Regions from separate parts of the Homo sapiens genome. Here region 2 is linked to region 1. The links come from fine-mapping of genetic effects on gene expression. A gene starts in region 1. The other region holds a variant in brackets. All regions are shown on one strand. Distances are from middle to middle.

Evidence for each region. PIP is the estimated chance that this variant, and not a neighbour inherited with it, causes the effect.
Region 2: its variant is fine-mapped to the expression of LINC02348 in tibial artery (GTEx, PIP 0.99).

The regions. Positions count from the first base shown.
Region 1 is chr15:101,611,356-101,616,728 of GRCh38, reverse strand. It overlaps LINC02348 (long intergenic non-protein coding RNA 2348), which reads left to right and starts at 2,390. Exons shown (of 3, transcript NR_147041.1): 1 at 2,390-2,779; 2 at 2,955-3,194. RefSeq lists enhancers at 2,045-2,561, 2,562-3,080, 3,899-4,399.
Region 2 is chr15:101,640,879-101,646,251 of GRCh38, reverse strand. It overlaps TM2D3 (TM2 domain containing 3), which reads left to right. Exons shown (of 6, transcript NM_078474.3): 5 at 1,090-1,165; 6 at 3,608-4,404. The coding sequence ends at 3,773. Among named protein-coding and RNA genes, the nearest start is that of TM2D3, 8.8 kb to the left of the region's middle. RefSeq lists a silencer at 4,810-4,969. The variant G/A (reference allele first, on the strand shown) is at 2,818.

The DNA.
Region 1 (5,373 bases):
CACACACACCCACACATCACGCCTCCCCTGGGTGGTAAGCTACATTTTAGTTTACCCAATAGTGATCAACGAGAGCGCAGTGTACGTGTTGTACACGGGGTTTCCAAGTCTCTGTTTGCTTTTTGGTCGATGGCAGTGGTGAAAGTTTATGAAGCAAGAAAGGAGCGCGGGGGAGGTGAGGCGAGAGGTGGGGTGGAAAGCTTTCAAATGAGGCCAGCTCCTTATGGAAATGAGGCTCCGTCATTTTTCCCTGAGTGGCCTAAACCCAATGTTTACTTGTAGCTTCTGTGCAATGAGCTCAATATCACACGTATTATATTGGATCCTGATAGTCTGATATTTTATGGGATGTCTCCTAGATCTTCTTTGCTGACCCCAGCGGTCCCAGCCCAGATTCCAAGCTGAACAAGTCGGGCTGCTTGCTCTGTGAGCAGTGGAGTCCCTGCTGAGCTTGGGCAGCTTTCCCGAGGCCCCGCCCTCTGGCCTCCTGCCCTGCTAACAGGCACGTACTCTGTGGATGGGACCCTGAACCAGTTATCTCAATGTCAGGGGGAATTTACTTCCAAGAAACTCCCCTCTCCTCCCAACTGTGTCCATTCATTCCTGCGGAGTCCGCACGTGGGCTGCTCTTCCTCTGGGTTCCCGCCCCTGAAGGCGCAGGAGGCTGTGACCACGCCCCTTTTGGAGCCTTCCTGGGCTCAGGGAGGGGCTTTGCCTGCGGGTGAGTGTGTGTGAGTGTGTGATGCTGATGACACACACACGGCCCTGCCTCGAAGGAGGCATCTGGGACCGAATGGGCTTGGGCGTCCCTCATGCATTCTACCGACATGGACATGGGCCCCTGGGAGGGTCTGAGCTGTGGTGGAGGGAAGCCCGGACACAGGTCTTGCAGAAGAGCTCAGCCACCCCAGAAAGGACCTCAAGGGTGGGGCCAGGAGTGCAGGTGGGGGCGCTGGCTGGCTGGGAAGGGGATTTCACATAGGAGGACCAGGCAGAGGGAACACTATGTCCACAGTGCATGCAGCACTTAGAGGGAATGCCACGTCCACAGTGCATGCGGCACTTAGAGGGCAGGCCACATCCACAGTGCATGCAGTACTTAGAGGGAATGCCACGTCCACAGTGCATGCAGCACTTAGAGGGAACGGGACAGCTGGCAGGGCTCTAGCCAAGGACAAAACAGCCCATTCCGTTCCCAGACTTTGAGTCAGCGTTTAGGGTTTTGCCTCATGATGGGCCGTGCTGAGGAAACCAGTCAAGATGACCTGAACTCAGACCCCTTCCGCAGTGTCTCCTTTGTCCTGCTGAGCAACTCTGCTGTTCTCCTGCAGCCCCTCCAGGCCAGCCTCCCTCTTCTACTCAGGGCGGGGTCCAGTCAGTGCACCCAACTCCGGGGCTCCTCAAGGCTCTCCTCCCTGCCTCTGATCTGGGCTGAGGTGGAGCAGATGTGAGGAGAGGTGGGGGGGGGAGCCCCCTTCTGCATTCCCCATGGTAGGAGCAAGGTTGACATCCCAAAAGCTCCTGTCAAACTGTCCCCAAAGCTCCTGGACAAGGACTCCTCCCTCGCCATCTCCCTGATCAAACTCACCCTTCCAGAAGGGCTCAGAGTGGCATCTGGGACAGCCCCGGTTAAGGTCTCATAGACTATCTGCTCTCGGGCACGGACCGGCATCTTTAGGATGTGAGATACTCGGCTCTTACTGCTGTCAGTGTGGGGGCCTCAGCTGGGACCACACACCGCATCACAGCCTGCTACACACACGGAAGCATTTTCCCGAGTCCGACTGTGGAACTGTAATGAATCTCAGCTGCCACTCACAGCTGCTCACCAGCGTTCTCTGCTGCTTTTAGTGGCTTTGTAGGTTTCCATTGCAGAGCTCAAATTATTTAAGCAGCCCTGGTCTTGGGTATGGAATTTTGCGGTCACAGCAGGCTGGGAGGGGATCTTTTGCTGATTCCTTTGTGCACAGGTGTGAAGAGATGTGTAGGAGAGTCCTGAAGGTGGTTTCTTATCTAACCTGCATCCGTGGAAGAGCGTGTCCTGGTGCCTGGGTGTCGGGACCCCATAAGGACCATGAGCTACCCCTTTGCCAGGGCTGGGACTGTGGATGGTCATTTGCAGCCCAGACCCACGAGGTGTTTCCCAAGCATGGTGGCACCTCCCTGTGGCTGTGCCTGGCTCCTTCCAGCTCTCCCCAGTGGCCCATAGGCTTAGAAACATGTAGAGTGTGTCCCAGGCAGGGGGCCAGCCTTAAAAAATGCCAGCCCATCTCCTCCATCCACGATGACATCACCGGTACGGGCTTGTGTGTAGGTGACCTTTGGTGGCCTGATCCTCCTGCCCTCTGCCTGGCTCCCTGGGCTCTGGTGGAACACAGCTGCCCTTCCTAATTTGGTCTTAATCAGGCTGAGCTAAGCCAGTCTGTATTTGAGGAGTTGGAAGCAGGTGATTCGGGCACAAATTTGAAGGCTGATAAACGGCAGCCGTCACCCGTGCACTCAGAGCGGCCAGAAGTCCTGCTCCTGGGGAAGGAGGAAGGGCGCAAGGGCAATGAGCATGTCGCCTTGCCCTCGGGGTGTGCGGTTTCTGCTCAGCCTCCTCTTGCAGCCTTGTTTCAAGTGTGGGAATGGCCTCCTGACTCCCAATCCGAAACAACTGCTGAGCACAGAAGGCAGAGCAGGGCCCTGAGAGTCAGAGGAAAATGCTGCTGCGGGGACTGGGGAGCCCCATCGGGTGACTCCCCAGAGATGTGAGCAGGTGCAGAGGCTGGAACAACAGGTGAGGCATGTGGGACCAGGAGGCCGGGTTGTGGGAAGCAAGGCATTTGTGGGAATCCGGGTTCCCCAGTGACACTGGAACCCTTCCTGCAGTCCCTGATATTCCTGGGGCTCGTCAGGGCTTCCCGTAACAGCCCAGGATTAAGTTTGTTCTCTTCCCTACCCCCAACACGCAGTGCTGCAGGAAAGTCTCTCCCGTGGATGCTGTGGCCTGGGGCTTGGGTGACGACGTGCACGGCTGCCTCCTCGCTGTCACGTGCTCTGCTGGCTCGTCTCCAAGCTGTGCTGCTCATGTTCCAAAGTCTCCCTGGAGGCTTTAGTGAAAAGCCCTTTCCCCGGTGACCTGGAGTGTCTTGCTAGATGGAGCTGGCCAAGCCTGACGTCTTTTCCTGGCCGATGCCTCAGTCCTTATGCAAGTAGGTGCAGCCACAAAAGGCACCTTCATGGGAATTAGGAACAGAGGATGCCAGGGCTGGGTGTCTCACCAGTGACTGCTGGGCCAGGGAGCAGACCCCGTGCAGACCTGCCCAGGCAAATCTGCTCCCCAAGTAGGGTGTACCAGGGGAGAGGGGAGGGCTGCACAGACCCCTGCTTCCAACATGCAGCTCTTTTGGACACTAGGTGGGGAGGAGGTGGGCTGGCATTTCTTTAAGGCCGCTGCCTGCTTTGGACACACTCTCATGGTTTCTCAGCCCGAGGGCCACTAGAGAAAGGTAGAGGGACCAGAGACTGCTGGAGTAAGAGTGCATGCACAAGGGACAGCCCCAGAGAGGTACCGCCATGCTGCCATGCCTGGGAAATGTGCCTCATGGGGCTTAGGGGGACCATCCACAGTCCCAGCAGCCCCAGCCCCTGCACAGGGGTCACCCGTGGTTTTTATGGGGTCCCGACACCCAGGCACCAGCACACGCTCTTCCATGGAGATCCCATGGAGAGGGATGCCTGCGTGGAGGCCACAGCACTTCTACCAGACCCTGCCACCAGCAGCCAGGCTTGGGAAATGGGGTGGGGGTGGCGGCAGCCTGGCCTGGTCACCGACATTAGCAGTCACCTGCCCAAGGCCATGTGGGGAGGGAGCAGCAAGGAGAGGCCGAAAAGCAAGCTGCGGCCTCAACCGGCCCTGGGTGCCCTCCCAGCCAATATCCAGAGGTGCCCAGCCGGAGGGCCTCACTCACCAGGGCCAGGGCCTCAGCCAAGCCCCAGGTCCCCTCCCCAGCACCCACGGAGGTCATCTTCAGAATTTCAAACGTTTGTCAATGAAGTGCTCCCAATGGAGGCCTCACCAAGCCTCAGTTTGGAAGATCTGAGCAGGTGCTGCTTCCAATTGTGCTTGGCTGTCTGGAGAGTCTCTTCTAAGAAAGTCCCTGCCCCGGGGAGCAGGGGTCAGGTGGTAATATAGCAGTCACGCAGAGAGGAGGCTGGGGCATTGGAGGACAGAGGAGGAACCAGCTCCGGGCTAGGAGAGGGGGAGCTGCGTTGGGTTCGCAGCCTTTGCAGGCCCCACCCAGGGCCCTAGTGTTGCTTTAGGAGCTGGGCAGCCACAGCTGGTGGGATGAGAGTTAAGTCCTGCAAACAGCAGCCTGGCTGCACTCACTGGAGAGCGAGAGTGGGTATGACCCAGGGTGGTGGTGATGCCGACAAGTGGCTGCACCCAAGGACTGTTTAGGAGTGAAAACCAAGCAGACGGTGGGAGATGGGCATGTGGGGAGCAGGGGTGTCCGGGAGCACCCAGGCTTCTGGATGCACAGTGGGAGGAGGATGGTAGAGGGGACTTGTGGGCCCGGGACCCGTATCGAGCAGTGCTGAGTCTCTGGGTCTAGAGCCCAGGAGCTGTTGGGCTGGACATACAAACTGAGAGTCCTCAGCACCTCAAGGACACTAAAGTGACAGCAAGATGAGAAGAGAGCAGGCCCACAGTGGCCTGCCCTGCCACCAGGGGCGTGAAAACCTGAGACATTCATCCTGTTGGCCTGGCGCCTGCAGCTGGCCCCCTGCCTTGCGTGTCACGGAGGCACTCTGCCTTGAGGGTAGAATGTTCTGGGAAGGCACTGTCTGGTGTTTGGTTAAATGACAGGTCAGGCTGAGCCTTGTGCATTTATGGGAGTTGATACATGTGTGTATAAATACATATGTACATATACACACATTTATACCATGTGCACACACACATACACACATGTGTATGCATAATATACAGTCATTTGCACATATATACACATACACCTATCTACAGTACGGGTGTATGTATACATATCAATATTTATTTGTAATTTCTGTCCTCTCTCCCTCCTGAATAACCTAGCAAGTTAGACCTTAGCTTTATGCTTTATTCTTCTCTCATCTACCTTTTTTTTTTTTTTTGAGATGGAGTCTTGCTCTTTGGCCAGGCTGGAGTGCAGTAGTGCAATCTCTGCTCACTGCAACCTCCGCCTCCCGGGTTCAAGCAATTCCCCTGCCTCAGCCTCCCGAGTACAGGTGCTCACCACCATGCCCGGCTAATCTTTTGTATTTTAGTAGAGACAGGGTTTCACCATGTTGGCCAGGATGGTCTCGATCTCCTGACTTTGTGATCCACCCACCTCGGCCTCCCAAAGC
Region 2 (5,373 bases), 30 kb before region 1:
TTTCAGGCTGTGTGCTCTTCTGGGACTTGCTTATTTCCTAAACATTGTGGCTCTAGGATTCATCCACGTGACTTCTCTTCTTTTTTTTACTTCTGTGTAATAATCTATTGTAAGATTGTATCACAGTTTATTCTCCAATATATTTGGTTAAGTGCTGTTTTCCGCTGTTGTGACTGTTCAAATTTCTTTGCCTGTCTCCCAATGGCACAGGTGCAAGAGCTTCTTCAGCATGTACTTTCCAGCGTGTGTCATTCTTTAAATGGCTGTATTGACTGGCATTCCCACCCGCGCTATGTAACTGTTCCTGATGAGCCATATTCTCTCCAAGAGTGGTTATTCTTAAATTTGGTCTTAAAGTTGTCTAGACTTCTTTTATATTTTGGATATTACCTGTGCTGTCCCTGAAACCCTCTCCCAGATTTTGATTTTTTTTTTTTTTGCATTATTGTATATTTTCATGAACAGAACTTTAAAAATATAATTACTGGAAGTTATTAGAGTTAGTCCTTTTTTGTGGTGGTTTTAAGAAATCTTTTTCTACCCCAGGTTAATAAAGACAATTTGCTACATTTTCTTTTGAAAGTTGTAAGTATAACATTTCACATTTAGGTTTAGAATCCACCTGGAATTGGTCCTGGTAGATGGTGTGAGGTAGATTCTACTTTAATTGTCCCCCCACATGGATGGCCAGTTGTCTCAACTCTTCCCTGTTGATCCGTGTGTGACCTCTGTCATAACACTCATACATGAAGTGTTTGTATATTTCTGGTTCTTGACTTTCTCTTCTTTTCCTATTGGGTGATTTTTATGCCTCAAGACTACACTGTCTTATATACTCGTAACTTCCCCGTAGGTCTTGATATGTGGGTGAGCATTTCATGTTCCTCACGTTGTAATCCTAACTTAGCTGATTTAAATATTACATCTATGTAGATAGATGGTAAGCGCTTTGTACTCTTCACTTCAACATGTATTACCGTAAAGAGAGTTGACTTTTCACATTTTAAATTTTGAGCCCATTTGTTACAATTAAGTCTTTCTGAGAGTATTTTTTATACCCTGTATTTTTCTTTCTTTTTTTTTTTTAAGGTAACCGTACTTTTCCCAAAATGCTATATTGCAATTGGACTGGAGGCTATAAGTGGTCTACGGCTCTGGCTCTAAGGTAAGCCTTGTTACTCGTAAGTGTAAAAGGCCGTTTGCATTTCTTTGGGATTGGTGGAATCTTCAGACATTGAGCTCAGTCCCCTTCATTCTTCACTCAGATCCTACCACGTGTGTTAGACTCTAGCAAACAGCTGGAAGAGTTTAGATGATCAGACCAGTACCTCCGTGGAGTTGACTGGCAGGCATGTTAGCTTTTCTCCCAAGATGCCTGCACATTACGTTTACCATTCTGAATGTACCACGAATCAGTAAAATGCTGTGGACTATCCAAAATAGGCAGTTTTATGATGTATATCTTTAATTTTAAGTAACTATTATAAAAAGTAATACATGATGAACACTGAAAACTGGAAAAATGAAAATGACAAAAACATTAAAAATTACCTATAATTTCATCAGCAGCAGATAATTATAGGCTTATATTTCTTACATAGAAATGTGCTGTTTGTTAAACTTCTCAACAGTACTTTAAGAAATTATAGCAGTTCTTCCCACCAAAGGGAAGGGCAGGTAAGACCCTGGTTAACTGATTAGTGAAAAGGTTACGCTGCCTACACTTGAAGTTTTGAGTTCGTGCCTGAGACCCTGAGGCCTGCAGCATTGCAGCCATAGGGCAGGATTTCTCAGCCTCATCACTGCTGACGTTCTGGGCTGAATGAGTTTTTGTCTTGGGGCTGTGCTGTGCATAGCAGGGTGTTGAGCAGCATCACTGGCCTCTACCTACTACTTGTCAGTAGCAAACCCCCCATCCCTTGCAGCTGTGACAGTGTGTCTCCAGATGTTGCCAGGTGTCCCCTAGGGGACAAAATTGCCCCTTGCTGAGAACCACTGCATTAGAATTTGAGCTGAGGAAAGAAGGATCTTGCCTGGCAGGAAAAGTGTAACTGAAAAGTAAAAGAGGGTGCCAGGATAGAAAATGAGACTAACAAAAATAAGATAGGGCGGGCGCGATGGCTCACACCTGTAATCCCAGCGCTTTGGGAGGCCGAGGCTGGCGGATTGCTTGAGGTCAGGAGTTCAAGACCAGCCTGGCCAACATGGTGAAACCCCATCTCTACCAAAAATACAAAAGCCTGCCATCGTGGTTCATGTCTGTGGTTCCAGCTGCGTGGTAGGCTGCAATGGGAAGATCACTTGAGCCCAGGAGGAGGAGGCTGCAGTGAGCTGGCATTGCACCACTGCACTCCAGCCTCAGTGACAGAGTGAGATTCTGTCTCAAAAAAAAAGATTAGTAACCATTGCTGACAATGGTTCAAATTAACAACTGGCTTTTTAAAAAAATAAATAAATGTTTGAAACTTGGAATAATTTTAATTTACAGAAAAGTTGCAAAGATAGTAGAGTTCTTATATACCCCTAACCTGGTTTCCCTACATTGTTAACCTCTTACAGTACTATACTGTAACATACTTTCAACAATTAAAACTTCTCAGCACTCAACATGGTTTTTTTTTTTTTTTGCTTTTTTTTTTTTTTTTTTTTTTTAACGGAGTCTCTCTCTGTCACCCAGGCTGGAGTGCAGTGGCTCAATCTCGGCTTACTGCAAGCTCCACCTCCCAGGTTCACGCCATTCTCCTGCCTCAGCCTCCCGAGCAGCTGGGACTACAGGCGCCCGCCACCACGCCTGGCTAATTTTTTGTATTTTTAATA[G/A]AGACAGGGTTTCACCGTGTTAGCCAGGATGGTCTGGATCTCCTGACCTTGTGATCCGCCTGCCTCAGCCTCCCAGAGTGCTGGGATGACAGGCGTGAGCCACCGCGCCCGGCAACATGGTTTCTTTTAAAATCATCACTGTAATGAGATGATGCCCAAGGTTTGCTTCAGGGTACTCTGGAGGGGAAAGAGGAGGGTTTTGATGAAACACAGCTGGCCAAGTGTTGATTATTGGAGCTGAGTCATGGGTACTGTTCTCTTTACTTTTTATTGTTAGGTGTTTAGAAATTTTCCATAATATAGTTTCAGTATTATTAGATCTTAGAATTTAAAAGATCCTTAAATCTTTTAAGGATTTATTCCTAACATTAAGATTTTAGAGATGAATGAAAAAATAGACTGAAAACATGGATGACTTGATCCAGGTCGTCCAGGTGGTGGTGAGCTCCTCCTGACTCCAGCCCTGACCCCGTGTTAGTGCACTTCCTGTTAGACTGGGTCTTTGCTTTATTTTGACTAAAAAGCAATGAGATTGATAACTTTAAAAAAAGAAAACATTGGTTTTTTAGTACAGCTAAAAATTGTATGTTTACTTTTGACATTTAAACTGTCTTCCTGCCCGTAATTATTTGGTGGTGTCAGTTTGTGAAATAGTCACTTGTGTTCCAGTTAAGGGCTACGATCAGGGGAAGCCCTTTCTCAAATCTGACATAATGTGGTGATTAAACCGTGACTGGCCACAGCTGGGGTGGAGGTGGTCTCATGGAATCCTGTCTGTTTGCCATCGCAGCATCACCCTCGGTGGGTTTGGAGCAGACCGTTTCTACCTGGGCCAGTGGCGGGAAGGCCTCGGCAAGCTCTTCAGCTTCGGTGGCCTGGGAATATGGACGCTGATAGACGTCCTGCTCATTGGAGTTGGCTATGTTGGACCAGCAGATGGCTCTTTGTACATTTAGCTGTGGTGTGTGCTTCAGAAAGGAGCAGGGCTTAGAAAAAGCCCTTTTGTCCGTAGGAGTTGATGTGGTGTGAGTGATATATTTCTATGTTTTTAATGTACAGCATCTGTACTTTGTTTGCCTTGATAAAGGTAAGATAAATGAAACGCTGAACTATGCTAATCTGGAATTTGTTTTTATTTGCCTGAAATATATTTTTTTCTGTGAAAAAATTAAAACGTACTTAAGCCAGGAGAATGAATTATACAGTGATTGAAAATCCATTTAATTCCTATGACTTTTGTTTTGTATTGCCCAAGTCAAACTACATCACTTGTATCTCCAGCCCAAATGTAGTCTGCCTTGAAAAGTCTTTCAGCTGTGACTGCAGGAAGTGGGAGTGTTTTTATTGTTAGCTAATTGCTGTGACTGCAGGAAGTGGGAGTGTTTCTGTTGTTGGCTAATTGAAGTTATTAGGCTCAGCTTCAGTCATGTGTAAGTTTTGCAGTGTAATACATATGTAGTCTGGTCTGTATATATGAAAATTTGAATTAAACTGCAGAATGTTTATGTCTAGTTATGGTTTAAATTTTCTTAGTAGTATATAAAAGGTAAGAGTACTGAAAAATTAATAAAATTGCAAGTTAAGAAATACTGTGGGCCTGTTTTCTATATTAAATATAATCTTGAATAATCATTACAACTTACCTTTATTGTTAAGAATAACATTTTTATCTTTCAGGGCATTACTCCATTCTAACAGAGTCATAATTGGCTGGTTTATTGACACAGTGGAAATATATAAATGTTTTTGAGTATAGATCTGTTATAGACCCTTTATCGGGGAAAAAAAACTCAGTTATTCAAAAAGATTTTTACTCAAGCTTGCTTTTGAAACATTTAAAAACTTAGCATTTTTTCTTTCAAATGTGGGTATCTGAGTTACTGCTTTTTAAACACTTGTGTGTATTATCCAGAAGACTGTTAACCACCATATCATATCTAGAAGCTATAAAATATCTGCATATTTCATTCAGCAGATGATTTATTGATTTCAGTTTACCTGAAAGGTTTCAGTGATCACTTGCTGCTGTTTAAAGCACAGTCCTTTTCTTAGTTGAGTGACAGTTCCATCTCTCGTCGCTAGGTGGCGCATCCCCATTACATTTGCTTCCCCATTCTAGTTCCAGAAACAGAAAAAAAAACTGGTTTTGTTTTGTTTTGTTTACGAGGAACTTGTCACAGAGCATGAGCAGTTCTTCAGGATGGGAGTAACCCGGTTTATGTGGACCTTTCTTTCTGAGAGCAAAGACACACTTTTTGTATCCGTTAAACTGTTGATTGAGCAGGTGTTTCTTTAGAAGACGATCTTTTCTTCAAGAAGTAGCCCCTTTGCTAACTATAATAAAAATGTCTCCTGAGTCTCCTTATGTAGCTCTGTGTAGAAGAGAATCTAATACTTCCCTGTTGAGCAACCATGCAAGGTGGAACCAGGGAGTCGGTGGGAAGTTAGTAGGAAGTATGCATTGCCCTTGGTGGAAATAGGTAACAGCATCCTTGATTAACCATTTTTGTGGCTCTGGGGCCTGAATTAGATAATGAAGCTGCAGTGTCTGAGAGT